3 linked regions of the Homo sapiens genome follow. The protein of the gene in region 2 purifies or fractionates together with the protein of the main gene of each other region. This does not show direct contact. Each region holds a gene or a part of one and is shown on either strand. Other genes may lie near its edges.

The links. Proteins that work in one complex are often made in the same cells at the same time.
Region 1: the proteins of EXOSC7 (region 2) and ZFC3H1 purify together in Homo sapiens (affinity purification with mass spectrometry; 3 studies listed by BioGRID and IntAct, with this or other methods). This does not show direct contact.
Region 3: the proteins of EXOSC7 (region 2) and DIS3L purify together in Homo sapiens (affinity purification with mass spectrometry; 5 studies listed by BioGRID and IntAct, with this or other methods). This does not show direct contact.

What each region holds. Positions count from the first base shown.
Region 1 is NC_000012.12:71,660,849-71,667,882, reverse strand, and holds the start of ZFC3H1 (zinc finger C3H1 domain-containing protein), read left to right. Parts: upstream 1-4,034; 5' UTR 4,035-4,272; coding exon 4,273-4,870; intron 4,871-5,060; exon of another isoform or gene 5,061-7,034. Other genes in the region: THAP2 (THAP domain-containing protein 2), read right to left, coding at 3,303-3,373. UniProt on the Homo sapiens protein: Subunit of the trimeric poly(A) tail exosome targeting (PAXT) complex, a complex that directs a subset of long and polyadenylated poly(A) RNAs for exosomal degradation. The RNA exosome is fundamental for the degradation of RNA in eukaryotic nuclei.
Region 2 is NC_000003.12:44,986,236-44,993,343, forward strand, and holds part of EXOSC7 (exosome complex component RRP42), read left to right. Parts: intron 1-2,904; coding exon 2,905-3,006; intron 3,007-3,314; coding exon 3,315-3,409; intron 3,410-7,108. UniProt on the Homo sapiens protein: Non-catalytic component of the RNA exosome complex which has 3'->5' exoribonuclease activity and participates in a multitude of cellular RNA processing and degradation events.
Region 3 is NC_000015.10:66,324,568-66,331,567, forward strand, and holds part of DIS3L (DIS3-like exonuclease 1), read left to right. Parts: intron 1-1,263; coding exon 1,264-1,797; intron 1,798-4,402; coding exon 4,403-4,557; intron 4,558-4,653; coding exon 4,654-4,832; intron 4,833-5,045; coding exon of another isoform or gene 5,046-5,057; exon of another isoform or gene 5,058-7,000. UniProt on the Homo sapiens protein: Catalytic component of the RNA exosome complex which has 3'->5' exoribonuclease activity and participates in a multitude of cellular RNA processing and degradation events.

The sequences.
Region 1 (7,034 bases), on a different chromosome or scaffold from region 2:
TGTATGGTGGAAATACTAAAATAGTGTGAAACTGCACATCTCTTTCCAACTCCATAATCAGTGATGTCATATTGATAGCTTGAAACTAGACTTGGTAGTAGTATTTACATCATAGAAGGTGGGGAAACACTACAAATCAGGGCTTTTCCCCCTCCCTAGAGAACATTTATTAAATATTTAGCAACATACTATTGATTACAGAAGAGTGCCTAGGAGTGCATGGATGGAAGCAGTGAGCCAGTTAAGAGCCTACTGTAATAATCTAATCAAGGGGTAATGGTGAGAAGTCAAGGGAGGAAGACTTCCAAGTTTCCAGATGGGTAGATCTTCATTTACTGAGAAGCAGAGTACAGGAAGTGGGGGTAAGTTTGGGGAAGGGCAGTTTGTTAATATAGATAATGAATCTGGGTAACTAAAAGGAGACCAGAGAAATACTGAGTAGACACTTGGCCTATAGGTCTGGAACTCATTAGACAGAGATGGACTGGAGATACTGATTTGGGAGGCATCAACAAGTAGATGCTGAGACCACAGAACAGCTGAAATTATTCTGATACGAATGTGAAGACCTGGCTTAAGGAGTAGAGAGAAGAGTAGCAAAAGAGATTGAAGACAGGCCAAAAAAGTCAGAAGATAATCATAAAATTAGTGTCATAGAGAGTATTTCATGGAGGAAATGATCACATACCATGAAAAATGAATGTAGAGAGACATTAAGGTCATGTTAGCAAGAGCAATTTCAGAAGATTACTGGGGAGACTTAAGACTTGAGTTGGCTAAGAGGTAAGAAAGATAGAGACAGTAAGTTTAGGCAAAATAACTTGCACATAGAGATACAGAAGTCTACTAATGGCCAGGCGTGGTGGCTTACGCCTGTAATCCCAACACTTTGGGAGGCCGAGGCAGGTGGATCACAAGGTCAGGAGTTCGAGACCAGCCTGGCCAATATGGTGAAACCCCATCTCTTCTAAAAAATATAAAAATTAGCCAGGCATGTGGGCATGCCTGTAGTCCCAGCTATTCGGGAGGCTGAGGCAGGAGAATTGCTGGAACCCAGGAGGTGGAGGTTGCAGTGAGCGAAGATCACACCATTGCACTCCAGCCTGGGTGACAGAATGAGACTCTGTCTCAAAAAGAAAAAGAAAAAGAAAAAAAAGTCTACTAATGTCCCAGTAGAAAAGGAGTGAATCAATTAATCCTTGTTTGTATTTACAAAATAGGAATGTATTTTTATTATAATGAATACTATTTTAAGACCTAAATTTCTGAGGTTACACATGAAAATGTTAAATTCATAGTAGGCAAATTTTATGCATGTTATTGTACCACCATCCATCTCTTTTTTTTTGTTTTGTTTTTTGTTTTTTCTTGAGACAGGGTCTCACTGTATTGCCCAGGCTGGAGTACAGTGGCATGATTATGGCTCAGTGCAGCCTTAACTTCCCCAGTTCAGGTAGTCCTCCCACCTCAGCCTCCGGAGTAGCTGGGACTACAGGCATGCGTCACCAGGGCCAGCTGATTTTTTTGTATTTTTTTGTAGAGACGAGGTTTCACCATGTTGCCTAGGCTGGTCTCAAACTCCTGGGCTCAAGTGATCAGCCCGCCCTGGCCTCTCGAAGTGCTGGGATTACAGGTGTGAGCCACCACACTGGGTTAAACATTGTTATTGGTGTCTGGACTCCCCTCTCTCATCTATCCAATCAAATTACTAAATTCAGTAGTTTCTCCTTGAACATTTCTCCAATCTGTCCCCTCCTCTCCATTTCTACTCTAATATCACCCTAGTCTAGAAATTTGGGTGGACTTTCCTTGTTTTATTTACTACAGCTTCCTAACTAGTTTTTCTCTGTCAGCTCACACATTCCCTAATTCAATGCTGATTGTGCCAGCAACTGAGTAAAGGGTTTAGTTTAGTTGACATTGTAGCAAGATTTCCCTGTGAAGGAAAAAAATAGGTAAATTAATATTCTGTAATAAGTTCCTTTCTCATCAAGTTCATTCCCGATGATGCTTGACCAGCACTTTCAGTAACACTACGATTCTCTACACTGCAGCCAGAGGACTTTTCAATATGCAAATCTAATCGTGCCATTCTTTTTTAAACCCTCCATGGTTTCTCAAGTACTCTTAGGATAAAACAGAAAATACTTAAGTAGCACACAGGACCCAATCTGTCATCCTTTGGTCTCATTTGAAATGTCACATCCTTTGAAAAAGTGTTCTTTGACTTTCCAAGACTAAGTTAGGTCTCTGAATGTTTCTTCTGTGGCACTTAATTATTTATGTCTTTCTCCACCATTAAATTCTAAATTCCAGGAGGGTTAGAACTTTCTGGATCCTTAGCACAATGTCAGGTAATTAGGAACTCCGTACATATTTGATGGATGAATGAACAAAGCACTACATATGCATGAACTAGTTTAAAAACAGAAACATCACAAGATTTTTTTTAAGTGGCAGCTTTTAATAAAAGTACAGTTCGTAATAGGTAGGGAAAAAGGTCAAGGATATAATTTCTACATACTAACATATACGTTGTTAGGTATATAAAATATATAAAATCAGGACTGGTGTCACTTAACTTTTTAATGTGTCTTTTCTTCGGGCACGTGGCAGGCACTTGCAGAGAAGGTAAACATTTACAGAGTACCTGTTATTTTCCAGGCATTGTTCAAAGTGCTTTCAAGAGTTCTGGTTTGACAGAACTAAAGAATTTTGATTTTTCTTCCAGCAAACAAAAGAAAACCTAGGTTCTTTTTATTACTCTATTCTAGTAAGAACAGAAAGGTTATCTTTTGCACTTTAATTAACATCGCTTAATTCCATGGCTATCAAAGATGACTCAATTCCTCCGCAGAATTACTATGTGACTATTAGAAATCTAAATGCCTCCCATGTCAATTCATCTAGTGAGAATTTCCTAATTTTAACGGGAACACAGCAGGCTTTTACGGTGATTGCTGATTGGGAAGATCTCTTTCTCCCTTACGGCGTCATTCATGTCAAGGCCCGGTCTAACAGAGGAATAAAACAGTAGAAAATTACGATATCCTCCTGTTACTTTTTTTTACTAAGGGGTAATGACCAAACAGTACTTGGATTTCTTTTAGAAAATGAGTAAAGCTTCCCCGAAAGCAGAGAACAATTGGGCAGATTTGAGAAACACAAAGGACATACGATGCTTCCCTGCTACCAGCTGGGAAAGTTATTAGAATTAGCAGAATCCTCCTGTTCCTTCCACACAAGCGATAGCCACAATAGGAACTCCAGTTTCCGTCACCCCCACTCCCTGCCCAGGTTACCTGTGGAAGCTGATGTTAATGTGCTTGTTGTAGGTAGTGGCACAGCCCGCCGCAGCGCAATTGGTCGGCATTTCCCTTTCCCACTCATTCAGCGCCCTTAGGTCTCTACTGAGGCGCTGGCTGCTAAGCTTTCTTCTGGCAGAGGCTGGACAATCGAGGCAGGCGTGCCTTAATCGTGAGAGCTTAGTCGTGAGAGCGGAGTGGGAAGAAGGGGTGTGTATGTGGGGGCGGAGGCGAAGGACGGTCAGCCTTCCCTTTCTCTTTATTAATATGGCCGACTAGAGCCCACAGAACTGGCCCTCCTGGAGCTCTAGTCGCCTTCGCTTGACTTCACCAACATGGCGGACACAACCCGTTCTTTCTCCCCGCCCCCAAGAGGGAGCGGATCTACTGCGTTTCTTTGGCAGCGGTCCTCAGAGCAATTAAAAGGAAGAGGTGTTTTCCCCTCCGATTACTATAAATTACAAGAGTTTTACAATAAAACTCTCTCAAGGCTGCAACAGCAGCTCCACCTACTTCTGCATGCACCCAACTGTACCAAGCCAGACCCTGCGGTGGGTGTGACCCTAGGACCGGAAGAGTAAACCCGAAGAAAGACGAAAGACTACAAATCCTAGTGAGTATCGAGTTGGTCTTATTATCGCGTGAACTGGGAGCCTTTGTTTCCTGCGTGTCGCAGGAAGTGACGTTTCGGGTACAGCCGCTACCAGAGTCCCTTTCTCGCGAGGCGGAAGAACCCCGATCGCTGAGGAGCAAGGGGGCGCTAGGAAAGGGAACTGGGTTGCGACGGTCCGGCGAGAGAGAGCTGGGGTGCTGGGGTGCGGGGAAGTTGGGGAGCAGAGGCCGCTTGGTGTCCGAGTAGGGTAAGACCGCACCGACCCAGTCCGTTAGGAAAGAAGGGAAACGAGGCAATTGTCGGGCGGATCCCCGGACGGAGGGCTAAGGTTGTGTGGAAGGCGCTGCTCCCCGGATGGCGACCGCAGATACTCCGGCCCCGGCCTCCAGTGGCCTCTCGCCGAAGGAAGAAGGGGAGCTTGAAGATGGGGAAATCAGTGACGACGATAATAACAGCCAGATACGGAGTCGGAGCAGCAGCAGCAGCAGCGGCGGCGGGCTGTTACCCTATCCGCGGCGAAGGCCTCCTCACTCGGCCCGGGGCGGTGGATCTGGCGGAGGCGGTGGCTCTTCCTCGTCATCGTCCTCTTCTCAGCAGCAGCTGAGGAATTTCTCACGCTCGCGGCACGCGTCTGAGCGGGGCCACCTCAGGGGACCCAGCAGCTACCGACCCAAAGAACCGTTCCGGTCTCATCCGCCTTCTGTACGGATGCCTTCGAGCTCACTGTCCGAAAGCAGTCCCCGGCCGTCTTTCTGGGAGCGGAGCCACCTCGCCTTGGACCGTTTCCGCTTTCGAGGCAGGCCTTACCGGGGTGGGAGTCGCTGGAGTCGGGGGCGAGGAGTGGGTGAGCGAGGAGGCAAGCCGGGGTGCAGACCTCCTCTGGGAGGAGGAGCAGGATCCGGGTTCAGCAGCAGTCAGAGCTGGCGAGAGCCCTCTCCACCTCGGAAGAGCTGTATCCTTAACGTGGCGGTCGGCGCTGGGTGTGTCACTAAAGTTCCCTTTAGCGTCATTACTAGGTCTGTGAGACGAGTGTAACTTTGAATCATCAGAACCGCTTATTTCTCCCTGTGTCAGTATACTTTAAGTTGTTCTTTGGTAATTCCCCATGTGTCACACTATAGCGTTATTCTTAAGACTGCTTCATTGGGTATATTAACGTGCTGTGGATTGGGTTAAGCTTATGAAATCTAAGACAGTTAAGTCTGATTTGTAATAATACCTTAGAAGCCCAAGTTTCATTAGCATTTGTATTTTTGCTGGTACAGAAACTTTGTGTTTTATATGAAGTTGACTTGGATTGTTAGAGAAAAAATATTCATAAACAGTTTAAGTAATATTGTTGCTTTATCATATTGCAGTTTGACGTTGAAAATTGTAAAGTTTTAATCTGCACAGTCCTGCACTATTTTTGTGATTCTGTTTTTATCTTGATTTATTCCGGTTGCTGCCTTTTAAAGTGGGGGGGGGAGGGGTAAAAAAAAAACAACTCTGGTGTCTTTACCAAGTCTGTTTCAGAGCTTTTTGATTCATTTGATCTTTTTGGAACACTTTACCTCCTTTACGTTTCTATCTGTGTTCACTTTTGCACATTGTGTAACTTCGTGCTGACTAAATGAGGGCCAGAGAGAGAAAGATAAACTTATCAGCATTTTTATTTTAATACGTTAGAGTGGAGGAATGTGTATGCGAGGGTGGAGATTACGGGTAAGTTGAGAAAGGAAATAGTAACATTCCAGATTTTTCCTACTTCTAACCTTATTCTCAGTTTTAAACATTACTGAGTTTACTCAGCATTTATACAGAGGAATCAATCATCCGAAGGTTTCCTGTTTTATAATGGGTTTGTAAAACACTATCTTGACTTAATCTGTGATCATTGCAAAAATTGTTTAAAGACTTTCATTACTGGTTGTAATTCACATAGTGTGATGATTTTTAATTTCGTTATTATATATGAAACTTAAAAGTAATGACAGTTATTTGGAAGACAATCAGAATTACTTTTATAGAACACTTAGGTCCAGAATAGGTCTTTCTCAAATGTCATGATGTAAAAGGGGCAAGGAATGTACATTTAGGTGAGAAACAGCAGCTTCTGATGCTAGTTCCCTGAAAAACCTTACTTCTGCAACCAAAAGTTGGGTTAGGAGTATTTCAGGATTGTTTCGGAGAAAATCATGTAGGCGCCAGGCGTGGTGGCTCACGCCTGTAATCCCAACACTTTGAGAGGCCGAGGCGGTGGATCACTTGAGATCAGGAGTTCCAGACCAGCTTGGCCAACATGGTGAAACCTTGTCTCTACTAAAAATAAAAAAGTTAGCCAGGCGTGGTGTTGGGTGCTTGTATTTCCAGCTACCCGGGAGGCTGAGGCAGGAGAACCGATTGAACTCGGGAGGCAGAGTTGTAGTGAGCAGAGATTGCACCACTGCACTCCATCCTGGGCGGTAAAGCGAGACTCCGTTTCAAAAAAAAAAAAAAAAGGAAAATTATATAGATATTTAACTTTTTAAAAGCCAGCAAATGGTTCTTCCAAGAAGGTTAGAAAACCTCTGCCCACGGTGTTTCTTAATCCATGGATTTGTGGTCTATTTTGAATCCAAAAGCCAGAAAGGCTATTTAAGCATATATATGTGTATGGTTTTTATTTATTTATTTATTTATTTTTGAGACAGAGTCTCGCTCTGTCGCCCAGGCTGGAGTGCAGTGGTGTGATCTCGGCTCACTGCAAGCTCCGCCTCCCGGGTTCACGCCATTCGGCCTCAGTCTCCCGAGTAGCTGGGACTACAGGCGCCCGCCACCACGCCCGGCTAATTTTTTATATTTTTAGTAGAGACAGGGTTTCATCATGTTAGCCAGGATGGTCTCGATCTCCTGACTCCGTGATCCGCCCACCTCGGCCTCCCAAAGTGCTGGGATTACAGGCATGAGCCACCGTGCCCAGCCAATGTGGATGGTTTTTAAATTTTTTTAATTAAAAAAAATTTTTATTAAATTTATTTAAAAAAATTTTTTTTTGGGGAGACGAAGTCTTGCTATGTTGCCCAGGCTGATCTTGAACTTGTAGCTTCAAGAGATCCTCCTTCCTTAGACTCCCAAAGTGCTGGGATTTATAGGCG
Region 2 (7,108 bases):
CTCCCGCATGGCAGGCTGCAGATCCGGAGCCCTGCCCCGTGGGAAGGCAGCTAAGGCCCAGCAAGAAATTGAGCACAGCAGCTGCTGGCCCAGGTGCTAAGCCCCTCACTGCCTGGGGCCAGCTGGCTGCTCCAGAGTATGGGGCCCGCCTAGCCCACACCCACCCGCTGAGCCCATGCCCACCCAGAACTCGCGCTGGCCCGCAAGCACTGCCCGCAGCCCTGGTTCCCACCCACGCCTCTCCCTCCACACCTCCCAGCAAGCTGAGGGAGCCGGCTCCCACCTTGGCCAGCCCAGAAAGGGGCTCCCGCAGTGCAGCGGCGGGCTGAAGGGCTCCTCAAGTGCTGCCAAAGTGGGAGCCCAGGCAGAGGAGGTGCCGAGAGCAAGCGAGGGCTGTGAGGGCTGCCAGCACGCTGTCACCTCTCAATATCTTCCAGGGAGGAAAGGTGCTGGGGGAAGGATGGGCTGCACAGGACCTTCCACCTGATTTGTGATGTTTATTTTCTGTCATTGAAAAGTTAAACGGGTGAAAGACCTGAAGCAAGTATGGCAGAGGGTGATCATTGGTACTGTGTGGTGCTGCAGTGTTTTGCTTTTTTCTGTTTAATTTCTCAAAAAAGTCAGTCACATATGCAGTTAGCCAGGCAGTTTAAAGATAAACTGTCAGTCACATACTTTAGAGCAGTGTTTTATTTTATTTTTTATGTTTCTGGGAAGCATCAACTCCTTGGAGAATCTGATTAAGCTAATGATTCTTTTTCTGAAAAAAACTGCTTTTGAAAAATGTTTACAAAGAATGAGAAGGAGCTCCATGAGCCAACGTGGAATGATTTCCTGCATATATATAGTTAAGTGTTAAAAAAAAAAAAAAAAGTAAGAGTATCTATAGTATTCCACCCTTCATATAAGAAACAAGGAGATATTAAAAAATTCATGTATTTGCTTATTTGTGCAGAGAAAATACAAGAAAGATAAACCTGAAACTGAAGAGAAACCTAGGGTGAATGGGAAGAAAGGGGCATGAAAATAGCATAATACGGAGGAGAGTGACATTTCTCTGAGCATACTTTTCTGAGTTTTCTCTCAGAACTATAGTGATAGCTCACAAACTCAGAAAGTAAATAAGTAATTAAAAGTAACCATGATGTGGGGGAACCCAAAATGGAAAACAAAAATTTACAAATGAAAATTAGCCAGGCATGGTGATGTGCCTGTAATTCCAGCTACTTCAGAGGCTGAGGCGGGAGAAGCGCTTGAACGCAGGTGGCGGAGGTTGCAGTGAGCTGTGCCACACTGCACTCCAGCCTGGGCGACAGAGCCATAGTCTAAAAAAAAAGTTACAAGTTACAAATGAGCCTGTGTTACAAGTGAGTAATGTAACCACACTGAAGGGCACGTAGAAGAAAAGAACTGAAGTAACTGGAAAACAGTATTTTGCCTGGATACTCTGAGGCTAAAGACAGAACTTTACACAAATACTGTGTGCTATTAGTAAATTTGTTTCTCACAGGGGTATGGGTTAGAAGTTCAGAAACTGTGTATACTAAGATTGAACAAATACAGAAATACATGTTAGATAATAAGAGCCAGCTTTCTCCTTCTTTGAGAAAGAAGTTACAAATAAGAAACAGAGGAAGGTTAGAATGAACCATGTGATGTTAGATTGGAATTGATCTATCAGTATGAACTCTTGGCTTTTTAATAGATATGTAGATAGATACAGAATTAAACAGATTTGTGTGTGTGTGGTGGGGGTGGTTAGTATACATAACTGTATTTTCTAGCTCTGTCTGCTGAGAAGTTCTGGAAGAAATAATACTCCAACAGCAATGAACTTAGAGCCTAGTTCCTGGTTTTAAGTACCATTCCCCAATAAAAGCAACCAGGGCTCCTTGGAGAAAGGCTTGATCCCTAGGGCTGGGCAGAGAAGACACAAGAGGATAGATATCTTGTGTTGCAGAAAGTAGATAATTACTCAAAAAGTTGGAGGCATGTTGAAAGAGCACAAAAACTAACCCAAAGAAGCCCCCAGTGGCCAAATTTGGAACACTTTGAGCAGCAAAATAACTAATGATAGTAGTGGATTATAACCATAGCATAAAAGATACCAATGAGTTGTACTGATACAAGTAATTGAAGGAGTAAATAAATGGGCAGAAGGAACAGGCAGCGCGTAGACCACCCTGAAAACCATCTTCTGCCAAAAGAGTCAGCAAACTTCCTGTAAAGGACTGGATAGTAAAGATTTGGGGCCTTATGGGTCATATCTCTGGCCCAACCACTCAGCTCTGCTTTTGTAGTGCAGAAACAATCATAGACATTACCTAAACAAGTGGGCATGGCTATGTTCCAGTAAAACTTATTTACAAAAACAAGGGACCTTAGTTTGTTGACCCTGTTCTAGAGACTGCCTCTTTAGAAGATTAGGTGTCTTTCACTATTTACACAGTAGATCTTGTTGAGTTTTAGGGGTAGGAGGGCTTCAGTTGAGATGATTGTACTCTGTAGCTCTGACAACATATACTTCTTGGTGCAATTTAAGAATTGCAGATTTAGAGAGAGGTGGCTTATTTTGTCTCTTGTTCAGATCTTGTTTTTGTGTGCATATTCTATATAGTGGTATGTAGTATAGATTTTGCAATCAGACACAACTGGCATGGAAAACTAGCTTTGTTTTCACTAGCTGTAGGACCTTGGACAAGTCGCTCAACTTCTCTGAGTCTCCATTTCCTCATATGTAAAATAGTAATGTTGTTGTTAGCTACAAGGACAGAATTTTAGATGATCCACTAAGAGGAAAAGAGATATTCTGCATATATCTTCTCTAGGGGGAAAATGGGTGAGTCCGTTTAGGAGTTATTGTTGATCTGGGGTGACTATAGGACTGTGGTTGTTAACACCTAGGAAGACCTCCGTGTGGATGGCCGTGGCTGTGAGGACTACCGATGTGTCGAAGTGGAAACTGATGTGGTGTCCAACACTAGTGGGTCCGCCAGGGTCAAGCTGGTGAGTACTGTGACCATGGTTCAAGCCCAGGTGGAGAAATGAGTAGGCCCTAAGGAATGAGCTGCTGACGCTGTCTGGCTTTTGGAATGCAAATTGCTCTTGGGGAAATCGAAGATCCGAGCCAAACTCAGGGAGGGGGGGTCTATCCAGATCTGAAAAGACTGCTCACCTCCTCCAAAGACCACTTTCCAAGTCTTAGCACTGCTCCTAAAAGAGTCCCCCAGGGGTGTATGTCCAGAAGAGGAGGGAGGTGGTGGAGTACCTGGCTGCATACTCTGAGTGAGGACTCTTCTTGCATGTGTCTGCAGGGTCACACAGACATCTTGGTGGGAGTGAAAGCAGAAATGGGGACGCCGAAGCTGGAGAAACCAAATGAAGGCTACTTGGAGTTCTTTGTTGACTGGTCAGTACTGTCTATGCAGATATTTCTAAAGATAAATGATTTTAAAGATGAAGATTCAGAAAATGAACCTCTGGTTTGCTGTTGAACCCACTTTTATACTTATCATTCAGCCATCCAGCAGGCATTTGCTGACCTCCTCCTATGTGCCAGGTACATAGTCAGGACTCTTGGCTTGAGTCCTGCCCTAGTCTTAACCACCTGGCTATTGCTGGCCTTGTTTTCCCTGTCCGATAAAGGAGGACATTTGCCAGGCAGCCTAGCACATGATTGTGATGAGGGTCAAATGAAATGATTGTGTTATGGTGCTTTGAAAAATATACACAGTAAGGATCATTTGGTCTAAAATGTGCTGTTTCTCTTCCTACTCTAGTTCTGCAGAAAACTGTTCATGATTTGCTTGACAGATGAAGCCTAGGGTCAGCCAAGCAGCCTGACAGGCTGAGGAAGTGGCAGCTAGGCAGGCAGTATGGGTGCTGAGAAGAGAGAGGGCTCTGCAGTGTCTGCAGCCAGCCTTGGGCCAGAATGTCACTTCCTTCTCTGGCCAGCTTTGTGATCTCAGGCTGGTTACTCAGTCTCACTGTGGCCAAATTTCTTCATCTAAAAAATGAGGATAATAAATAATACCATGGTGATGAAGAGGAAATGAATAGAGTGAGTACCTAGCACAGTGACTGACTTCCAGTGGGCTTTCAATAAGTGTTATTTCTCCTTATTTTGTCAATAAGTTCAATAAGTATTATTAGCTCCACATTCTAGGGGTCGGGGCTTTTTATTTGGTTGCTGGCCAGGTCCCGTCTTCTATCAATTACTTTGCTTCTGGAAGCCAGGCCTTCTTGAAGTGGGTAAGGATCTCTGTGGGCTCATGCTGGGTGTAGGTATATAATGTTGACCCTGTATCAAGATCCCCAAGACCACCTCCACATTCAGAGATTTGCTAGACTTAGCATATAGTGATACTCACAGCTAAGGTTTATTACAGCAGTGAAAATGCAGTAACTTATTTGTGACATTTCTGCCCAGGAAAGCCCATTAGAGACTCAGCACCCAAGATTTTTACTGGGAGCTGGTCACATAGACACTCGATGCTTAATACATAATGAAGTTTTCTAAAGGAAAGCAAATGTTCAGCATAAATCATATTATTTGCACAATATAGGCACAGTGGACTACCCCCATCAGTTTACTATTGCCTGGGAGCCAGGTTCCCGGATGCCAGCCAAGGGCCAACCCTGCAAACAGACCCTTCTGAAAATAGCACCTTTGGACTGCAATGGCAGCCCTTTTTTGCACAAATGTTAACCCACTTTTGTAGGGTGAGTTACAGTCTTCCAGTCTGAACTTCCATACACGGAAGCTGATTCTCATAGTACTCGTATAAGAGAAATGACAAATGAGTTCAGAGAGAGTAAGTGACTACCCCAGGGTTACAAAGCTAAAAATGCCAGCTCAGGTCTGTCCAACCTGTGAATCTTTGCTCATTTTACTTCATGCAGCCTATGGAAGCCAGCTTTGGAGGGCTGCTCTTGGGGAGTCCAAGAACTATCCATGTTCATTTTTCTGGTCAGTTTTTTTTCCAGCCCATTCCTGTCCCCTACTCTGGTCCCCCAAGTCGTCTCTCCTGGTTCTGCTCATCTTCTCTCACCAGCCTGAGTTGTCCCATGGAATTGGCCCATCCTTTAAGTCACTGTGGATGATGGTGACCTTGTTCAAGCCCCCAACTTATCTTTTCCTTTGTTCTTGGAGGAAGCAGAATGCCTCTGGTGGCCTTGATCTGCCTAATTCAATGCAGTAAGCAGTCACTGAGGAGCAGACAATGTGTGAGGAACTGTAATTTGCTTTCTTTTTCATCTCCTTCATTACCTTCTACCTCATTCATTTTAGGCAGACCAAAGACATTCAGCCCAACCACACCAAAGAGAGGGTGTTGCCCTCAGATGCTTGGTATAGGGGATACGTTTCATTGTGGCTCTGTGTCTAAATATGACTCCAAGTTAGCCTGCTGCTCTTATCCCTTTCTTGTCCCAGCTGTAAAGGATGAGTGACTCTAGTGTGAGAGGATTCTTTGAGTTGCCTCTTCCCAAGATCTGGCTTCTAGAAGTAGCCTATCTTTCCTGGCTTAGAGTGGCTGCCTGCTGGTCTCTTTTCCTCCTCTGTGGGTCTCAAAAGGATCCCCACAGGCCCAAGAGCTCCAGTATCTAGGTAGTTCTCCTGAATTGATTTCTCAAGATGGACAGTCTCAAAGTGGCACACTTTACCTTCTTTAAGTGGCTCAGCTAATGTAATCAGCCGGGCAAGTAGAATCACCATGAGAGAGTCACAAAACCCCATTTCCTACAGAGATGGGAGAGGTTACCAAGCACTGATCGCTGCCACCTGTATCAGAACCTCAATTGAGTCTTCAAGGAGCATAATTATTTTAATTGCATAAACAAGTGTGTCCTTTTATTCTGAATCAGTGAATAGGAATGGCTTCTGGACACCCGTGGATGTGCCCAGCAATAAGGGTGCCACACACCCACTCCCACCTGGACTCCAGGCATAGGGCCTCTGCTGGAGAGCTCAAGGCATTTGCCTATCCACAGGCTGAAACATAGTTGCTGCCCAGTGGAAGGAAATAAATTGGTGGTGATGGTGGTGGTGATGGTGGTGAGGGTTTCTTCTGCTGCTCTGAGTCTAGTTTGATTTAACTTCTTGTTAGCAACTTCCAGTTTTAATTAAATTGCCAGGGGTAGAGAGGTCTCAGAAAACTAATTGATTTTCTGCCAACCCATTTCACTTGGTTTTGTCTACTTGGGATGATAATACATGGAGCCAAGATAGACACTGTCGCCACCTCCATAATTTACCCTGTTTCTTGGGAATGACGAAAAATCTTTGATATAGCCCTCACAGCCCTTTGGAAAGACTGCTGCACTGACCCTGAGCCCTGTTCCAGAGATGCCTGGCAGCACTGTCACTAAACTGGGAGCAAAATCTGACCTTTTCATGTCTTTGGTTTGCTGGTTGTAGCTGAGAGTAGGCTATTTTAAATGAGAATTTGGAAACTTTAGGAAAAGGTGGTTTCTATCTAAAGCCCAAAGGAAGGGAAGATTTTAGTGAGCTGGTGTGTCACCCTGCGCTGCCACTAGGCGGCGAGCCATCAAGTTGCTTCTCAGTTCTCCGACCATTGTGTTGATGGGTTTAGGACTGTGGTTTAACCTCTTAGAGAGGCTTGGGTTTTTAACTAGGGGAGTTTAGGAGAACATTTTTCATTCATAAATGTTTCAGAATACTCCGCACTTGTCACTTCCCTTTGGGATCTTAACTATTTTTCAATGTGAACACTTGTATTTTTCACTAAAATTGAACCAGAATCTTCAAGCCTGCATTGGTGGTTGGAGTCACTATATCTGGGTTCCTTGCCTGCTTAGTGCTGCTAAAGGGGACACTGTTCCTGGCTGAGGGGCTGGGGGTGGGTACAAAGCAGAGAGGCAACCTGCAGAAGCCTTTTGAGGCTAATTGTAATCAAAGTCTCCCAAGCTGATGAGATAACTCTCGCAGACACTTCAAACAAAGGCTTGTGATGAAAACCTCAGAATATACTTACTATTGGTCTGGTACCCATTTACAGGGAGGCTTCTACAGGCTCAGACATGAGCACATGTACACTCAGAGGAATCAGCCTTAGGGCCTGTGTTGGGGCTAGATGACTACTGGAGG
Region 3 (7,000 bases), on a different chromosome or scaffold from region 2:
GATCAATATAATCAAATTGCCCTTCTTAAATGTTACACCAGTTATATTCCTGTCACCAATGTATGAGAGTGCATATTTTCCTATAGCCTTGCCAACACAATATGTTGTATTTTTTTATCTTTGCCAATTTGATAGATGAAAAATGGTATCTTAGATTGGTTTTAATTTGCATTACAAATAAAGCTAACCATTTTTTCGTATGTTTGTCACTTATGTATCCCTTTCTGTTAACTATATTCTTCGCCCATTTTTCTTTTGGATTCAAGATCAATTACTGATTAATTTGTAAAAGCTCTTTACATATTAGGAAAATTAGCCCTATGTTTTTTATGAGTTCCAAATGTATACCTTTTTTTTAAATAAAATGACTTGGTGGCAAAGAGTTTTTTTACTAAATGAAATTTTTGCTAATTTATCTGTCATCAAGATTGATATCACAGTTCAGTGCCATCCTGTAGGATTTGCAAGACTTTGCTCTAATTTACTGAGCTAAAAAGACTTGACTCTATCAGTGTCATGCTTTTCTAATCAAAATAGAGGACATGGCCGGGCACGGTGGCTCACGCCTATAATCCTAGCACTTCGGGAGGCCAAGGCAGGTGGATTGCCAGAGCTCAGGAGTTTGAGGCCAGCCTGGGCAACACAGTGAAACCCCGTCTCTACTAAAATAGAAAAAATTAGCCAGGCATGGTGGTGCACGCCTATAGTCCCAGCTACTCAGGTGGCTGAGGCAGGAGAATCACTTGAACCAGGAAGAGGTAGGTTGCAGTGAGCCGAGATCGCACCACTGCACTCCCACCTAGGCAACAGAGCAAGACTCCATCTCAAGAAAAAAATGGAGGACATAAAGTAAGGTTTGTAATGTCACATATGAACTCATTTCAAATTTGTTCAGAGCTCAACAGTCCCCAGTCTAACTTTGTTGTTTTAATTTAAAATATTTTTTGATTTAGTTGTAAGGTGGTTGGATTGACAAACCAGAAACCTGTAGCTTTGTAATTTCTTTTAAGTTACAGTTAGGTCAAATTCCACTTGCTTCAAAAATAGAAGACTTAGGTGGGGCATGGTGGCTTACACCTGTAATCGCAGCACTTTGGGCAGGAGAATTGCTCAAGTCCAGGAGATTGAGGCAGCAGTGAGCAGTGATCATGCCATTGCACTCCAGCCTGGGTGACAGAGCAAGATCCTGTCTCAAAAAAACAAAAAACAAAAAAAGCCAGATGAATTTGAATAGTGATGTTGTCAATGTTACTGTTTTTGTAGGTATGCTGTAAGCATCATGTGGGAACTGGATAAAGCCTCTTATGAAATTAAGAAAGTGTGGTATGGCAGAACCATTATTCGATCAGCATACAAACTGTTCTATGAAGCAGCCCAAGAACTACTGGATGGAAACTTAAGCGTTGTTGATGATATTCCAGAATTCAAAGACTTGGATGAGAAGAGCAGACAAGCCAAGCTGGAGGAGTTGGTGTGGGCAATTGGAAAGCTGACCGACATAGCTCGCCATGTCAGAGCTAAACGAGACGGATGTGGTGCCCTGGAACTGGAAGGGGTAGAGGTTTGCGTACAGCTAGATGACAAAAAGAACATTCACGACCTCATCCCCAAGCAGCCCCTGGAAGTCCACGAGACAGTGGCTGAATGCATGATCCTGGCCAACCACTGGGTCGCCAAAAAGATCTGGGAGAGCTTCCCTCATCAGGCCTTGCTGCGCCAGCACCCTCCTCCACACCAGGAGTTCTTTTCAGAACTCCGGGAATGTGCTAAAGCCAAAGGCTTCTTCATAGATACACGGTATTCCTCTTTTGAGGGGGCAGAGGAATGGAGTGGCATGCTGTATATTTAGTTATCTTACAGTTGTTCTTAAAATGTGACAGCCAGATCTTTGACCAAAAAGAGAAAACAGATTCTTGGCTCTCCTCATTTTTGAAGACACATTTTTCCCTCTTCATTGTTATGTATAGAGACTTAAAACAAGTTTATTTAGGCATAATTTTGTTCCTTGGTTTTTTGTTTCAATTTTTTTTTAGATAGAGTCTTGCTCTGTCACCCAGGTTGGAGTACAGTGGTATGATCTCGGCTCACTGCAACCACCACCTCCCAGGTTCAAGTGACTCTCCTGCCTCAGGTTCCTGAGTAGCTGGGACTACAGGCACACGCCACCATGCCTGGCTAATTTTTTTGTATTTTTAGTAGAGACAGGGTTTCGCCATGTTGGCTAGGCTGGTCTTGAACTCCTGACCTCAAGTGATCCACCTGCCTCGGCCTCCCAAACTGCTGGGATTATAGGCATGAGCCACCACACTGGACATTTAGGCATAATTTTGACCCACTACAATTTGGGTTTTTTTGTTCGGTTGGTTTTTTTTTTTTCTTTGAGATAGAGTCTCGCTCTGTCATCCAGGCTGGAGTGCAGTGGCACAATCTTGGCTCACTGCAACCTCCGCCTCCCAGGTTCAAGCGATTCTCTTGACTCAGCCTCCTGAGTATATGGGATTACAAGCATGTGCCACCACGCCTGGCTAATTTTTGTATTTTTAGTAGAGACAGGGTTTCACCATGTTGGTCAGGTTGGTCTCAAACTCCTGACCTCATGATTCGCCCGTCTCGGTCTCCCAAAGTGCTGGGATTATAGGCATGAGCCACTGTGTGTGGCTGACCCACCATAATTTGTAATACAGAAGTAGGGAACCTGTTAGTTACCCTTGATTTAATTTCATGTACCCCTTAAGTTACAAAGAAATAATCCTATTTATTTCAGTACTTTTAAAATGCAGCATCTTTGTGACAATATCATAAGATACTACACCAACAGTGAATTTATACCACCCTCAATTGAGTGAGACATTTTTACTCCCTATCTCTAGGATAAAATACTTCTTTCATTAAAAACCAAGTATAGGCAGGCTGGGCACAGTGGCTCATGCCTGTAATCCCAGTACTTTGGGAGGCCGAGGCGGGCAGATCACGAGGTCAGGAGATCGAGACCATTCTGGCTAACACGGTGAAACCCCATCTCCACTAAAAATACAAAAAATTAGCCAGGTGCTGTAATCCCAGCTACTTGGGAGGTTGAGGCAGGAGAATGGCATGAACCCGGGAGGCGGAGGTTGCAGTGACCCAAAATCGCACCACTGCACTCCAGCCTGGGTGACAGAGCGAGACTCTGTCTCAAAAATAAATAAATAAATAAATAAAAACTAAGTATAGGCTGGGTACAGTGGCTCACACCTGTAATCCTAGCACTTTGGGAGGCTGAGGCAGGCACATCACTGAGGTCAGGAGTTCAAGACCAGCCTTGCCAACATGATGAAACTCTCTCTGCTAAAAATACAACGAGCCAGGCATGGCGCACTCTTGTAATCCCAGCTACTCAGAGGCTGAGGTGCGAGAATCGCTTGAACCTGGGAGGCAGAAGTTGCAGTGAGCCAAGATTGTGCCACTACACTCCAGCCTCTGTATGGTCACTGTATGAGCTGTCTGCATGCCAGGCACATGGGACAAGGGCTTTCAGACATCCTCTTGGTTAATTCTTAATGCTGAGGTGATGGCAGCATCATTCATATTTACAGATAAGTCAATTAAGTCTGAAGAGATTAAGTAATTTGCCTGTAATTTAACAGTCAGGGCAGAGCCAAGATTTGAATCCAAGTCTGTTAAACTTGCAAGCTCACATAGTGACCACTTAACACCTTGCCTCTCTGTTCATCATCATGCTCTATTTCTCCTTTCCCCCTTTTCCCTTAGCCAGCCACAATATAGGACTGAATTATATGTTATTAGTTTTATTTTTAATATACCTCTATATTTCCTGGGGCTTTGAAATTATTATTTTGAGGCTGTATGCAGTGGCTCACACCTGTAACCCCAGCACTTTGGGAGGCCGAGGCAGGAGGATCACTGAAGGCCAGGAGTTCAAGACTAGCCTGGGCAACAAAGTGAGACCCTGTCTCTACAAAAAAATTATTTTGAGAATAAATAAATAGAATGCTTACTACCTCTTTAAAAAAGAAAAACTAATTTAGGTTTCTTTTACTTGTACACCAAGTCCATTATTTTACCTATATATAGAATGTTTAAGGTTAAGGATGTAAAGAATTCAATTCAACGAGTATTTGACCACCTATTATAGCCAAGCACTAACTTAACCTAGTATTAAAATCAGTACATGATTCATTTCTACTTAAGAAATGTATTTAAATTCTGACACTCTTGTTTTGTTTAAGCCGTAAAGCAAACTAGATTTCTGTAGTTGAAAAGAGGTGCTTCTGAAACGTGTCCAAAACAAATTTACTGGCAGATGAAGGTATTCAGACGGATGAGTGAAGGGTTCCCCTCAAAGTGTTGTCTTGTAAATTACTGTCTGGGACTAGCTAACGGTTTTTCTGTTCTTTGTCAGGTCCAATAAAACACTGGCTGATTCTCTGGATAATGCGAACGACCCCCACGATCCCATTGTGAACAGGCTACTGCGCTCCATGGCCACGCAGGCCATGTCGAATGCTCTGTACTTCTCCACCGGATCCTGTGCGGAGGAGGAGTTCCATCATTACGGTGAATCATACCATATTCCTATGTGTGGCTGTAACTTTGCGCTAGTTATTTTAAAATAGTTTTTGTTTATTTTGATCTTTTGCTTTCTTTTTGAAGGTCTTGCATTAGATAAATATACCCACTTTACTTCTCCAATAAGAAGATATTCAGATATTGTAGTACACCGCTTGTTAATGGCAGCCATTTCAAAAGATAAGAAAATGGAAATTAAGGGAAATCTGTTCAGCAACAAAGATCTTGAGGAATTATGCAGACATATCAACAACAGAAACCAAGTAAGAGGGAATTTCAAAATTCTCTTACCTGTCATCTCTTGCTAAGAAAATATCAGCTTTATTGTGTAGTACCGTGAAGTATCATATATTCTAGCAAATTAAATTCTAGAATTATTCTAACCAGTGCTTTCAGAACATTTGTAGATGTTCTCAGGTAACTTGTGGATTTGGGAGATTTGACGGTAGATTATCAGATTTTTTTTTTTCCGAAAGGTGGAAATGTAAAGATTCAAGCAACGCATAAAGATATGATGACAGAGGCCAGACGTGGTGGCTCACTTGAGGGCGGATCACTTGAGGTCAGGAATTTGAGACCAGCCTGGCCAATATGGTGAAACCCCATCTCTACAAAAAATACAAAAATTAGCCGGGTGTGATGGCACGCGCCTGTAGTCCCAGTTACTTGGGAGGCTGAGGCAGGAGAATCTCTTGAACCCAGGAGGTGGAGATTGCAGTGGGCCGAGATCACACCACTGCACTCTAGCCTGGGTGACAAAATTGAGACTGTGTCTCAAAAAAAAAAAAAGATATGAAGACAGAAACATCACCTGTTATCTTACCACCCAGAGCTAACAATTAATGATTCTAGACACTGCTAACATTTTTATTTATAAAAATATCGGCCAGATGCGGTGGCTTGCACCTGTATTCCCAGTACTTTGGGAGGCTGAGGCAGGTGGATCACGAGGTCAGGAGATCGAGACCATCCGGGCTAACACAGTGAAACCCCATCTCTACTAAAAATACAAAAAATTAGCATGGTGGCAGGCGCCTGTAGTCCCAGCTACTCAGGAGGCTGAGGCAGGAGAATGGTGTGAACCCGGGAGGCGGAGCTTGCAGTGAGCTGAGATTGCACCACTGCACTCTGGCCTGGGTGACAGAGCGAAACTCCGTCTAAAAAAAAAAAATCACACCGTGCCTGCTGTTTGAATCTGCTTTTTTCATGTAACCCAACTGTTATTGATAGCACACCATGTTATATCATTGTTTTGAAGCTGCTTTCTATTCTATTTCATATTACTAGTTGCTACAAGATTGCACAGCATAGAACTAGACTATTGGGTAACGCAGGAAATTGGAAACTACCTAAATGTTTAATGTAATTTTCTATATCCAATGGTATAGTTGTCTGCTGTGCAATGTTGTAGCACTAGCCATGTGGACTACCTAAATTTAATTAAAATTAGAAGTAGAAATTTGTCTCAGTAGAAATTTGGCCAGTGTCTCAGTCACACTGGCCACATTGTATAGCTCAGTGGCCACTTGTGGTTAGTGGCTACATATTAGGCAACACAGATAGAGAGCATTTCTATCATTGCAGAAAGTTCTGTTGGGCAGCACTGTTCTAAGCAATCAAATTTATAACCATCCTTATGGATACACTTATACAGACATTTCAGATGATTTCCTGGAAAAATTCCTAGAAATGGAATTGCTGAGCCAAAAGGTGTGCATGCACAAATGAAACTGATAGGTCAGGTGCAGTGGCTCACGACTGTAATCCTAGCACTTTTCGAGGTCGAGGCCGGTGGATCACCTGAGTTCAGGAGTTCCAGAGCAGCCTGGCCAACATGGTGAAACCCCGTTACTACTAAAAATACAAAAATTAGCCAGGCATGGTGGTGCATGCCTGTAATCCCAGCTAATCGGGCGGCTGAGGCAGGAGAATCACTTGAACCCGGGAGGCAGAGGTTGCAGGGAGCCAAGATCGCGCCATTGCACTCCAGCCTAGGCGATAGAGTGAGACTCCATCTCAAAAAGAAGACAAAGAAACTTTAATACATATTACTAAATTGTCTTCCTTATCAGTAGTGCTAATTTAGACTTCCACCAATAGGGTTTTCATTGGACAGGCTTGAAAAGAAAGAAAGGCTGGCCGGGCGCGGTGGCTCATGCCTGTAATCCCAGCACTTTGGGAGGCCGAGGCAGGCGGATCACGAGGTCAGGAGATCAAGACCATCCTGGCTAACACAGTGAAACCCCATTTCTACTAAAAATACAAAAAATTACCCGGGCGTGATGGCAGGCGCCTGTAGTCCCAGCTACTCCAGAGGCTGAGGCAGGAGAATGACGTGAACCCAGGAGGTAGAGCTTGCAGTGAGCCGAGATTGCACCACTGTACTCCAGCCTGGGTGACAGAGTGAGACTCCATATCTCAAAAAAAAAAA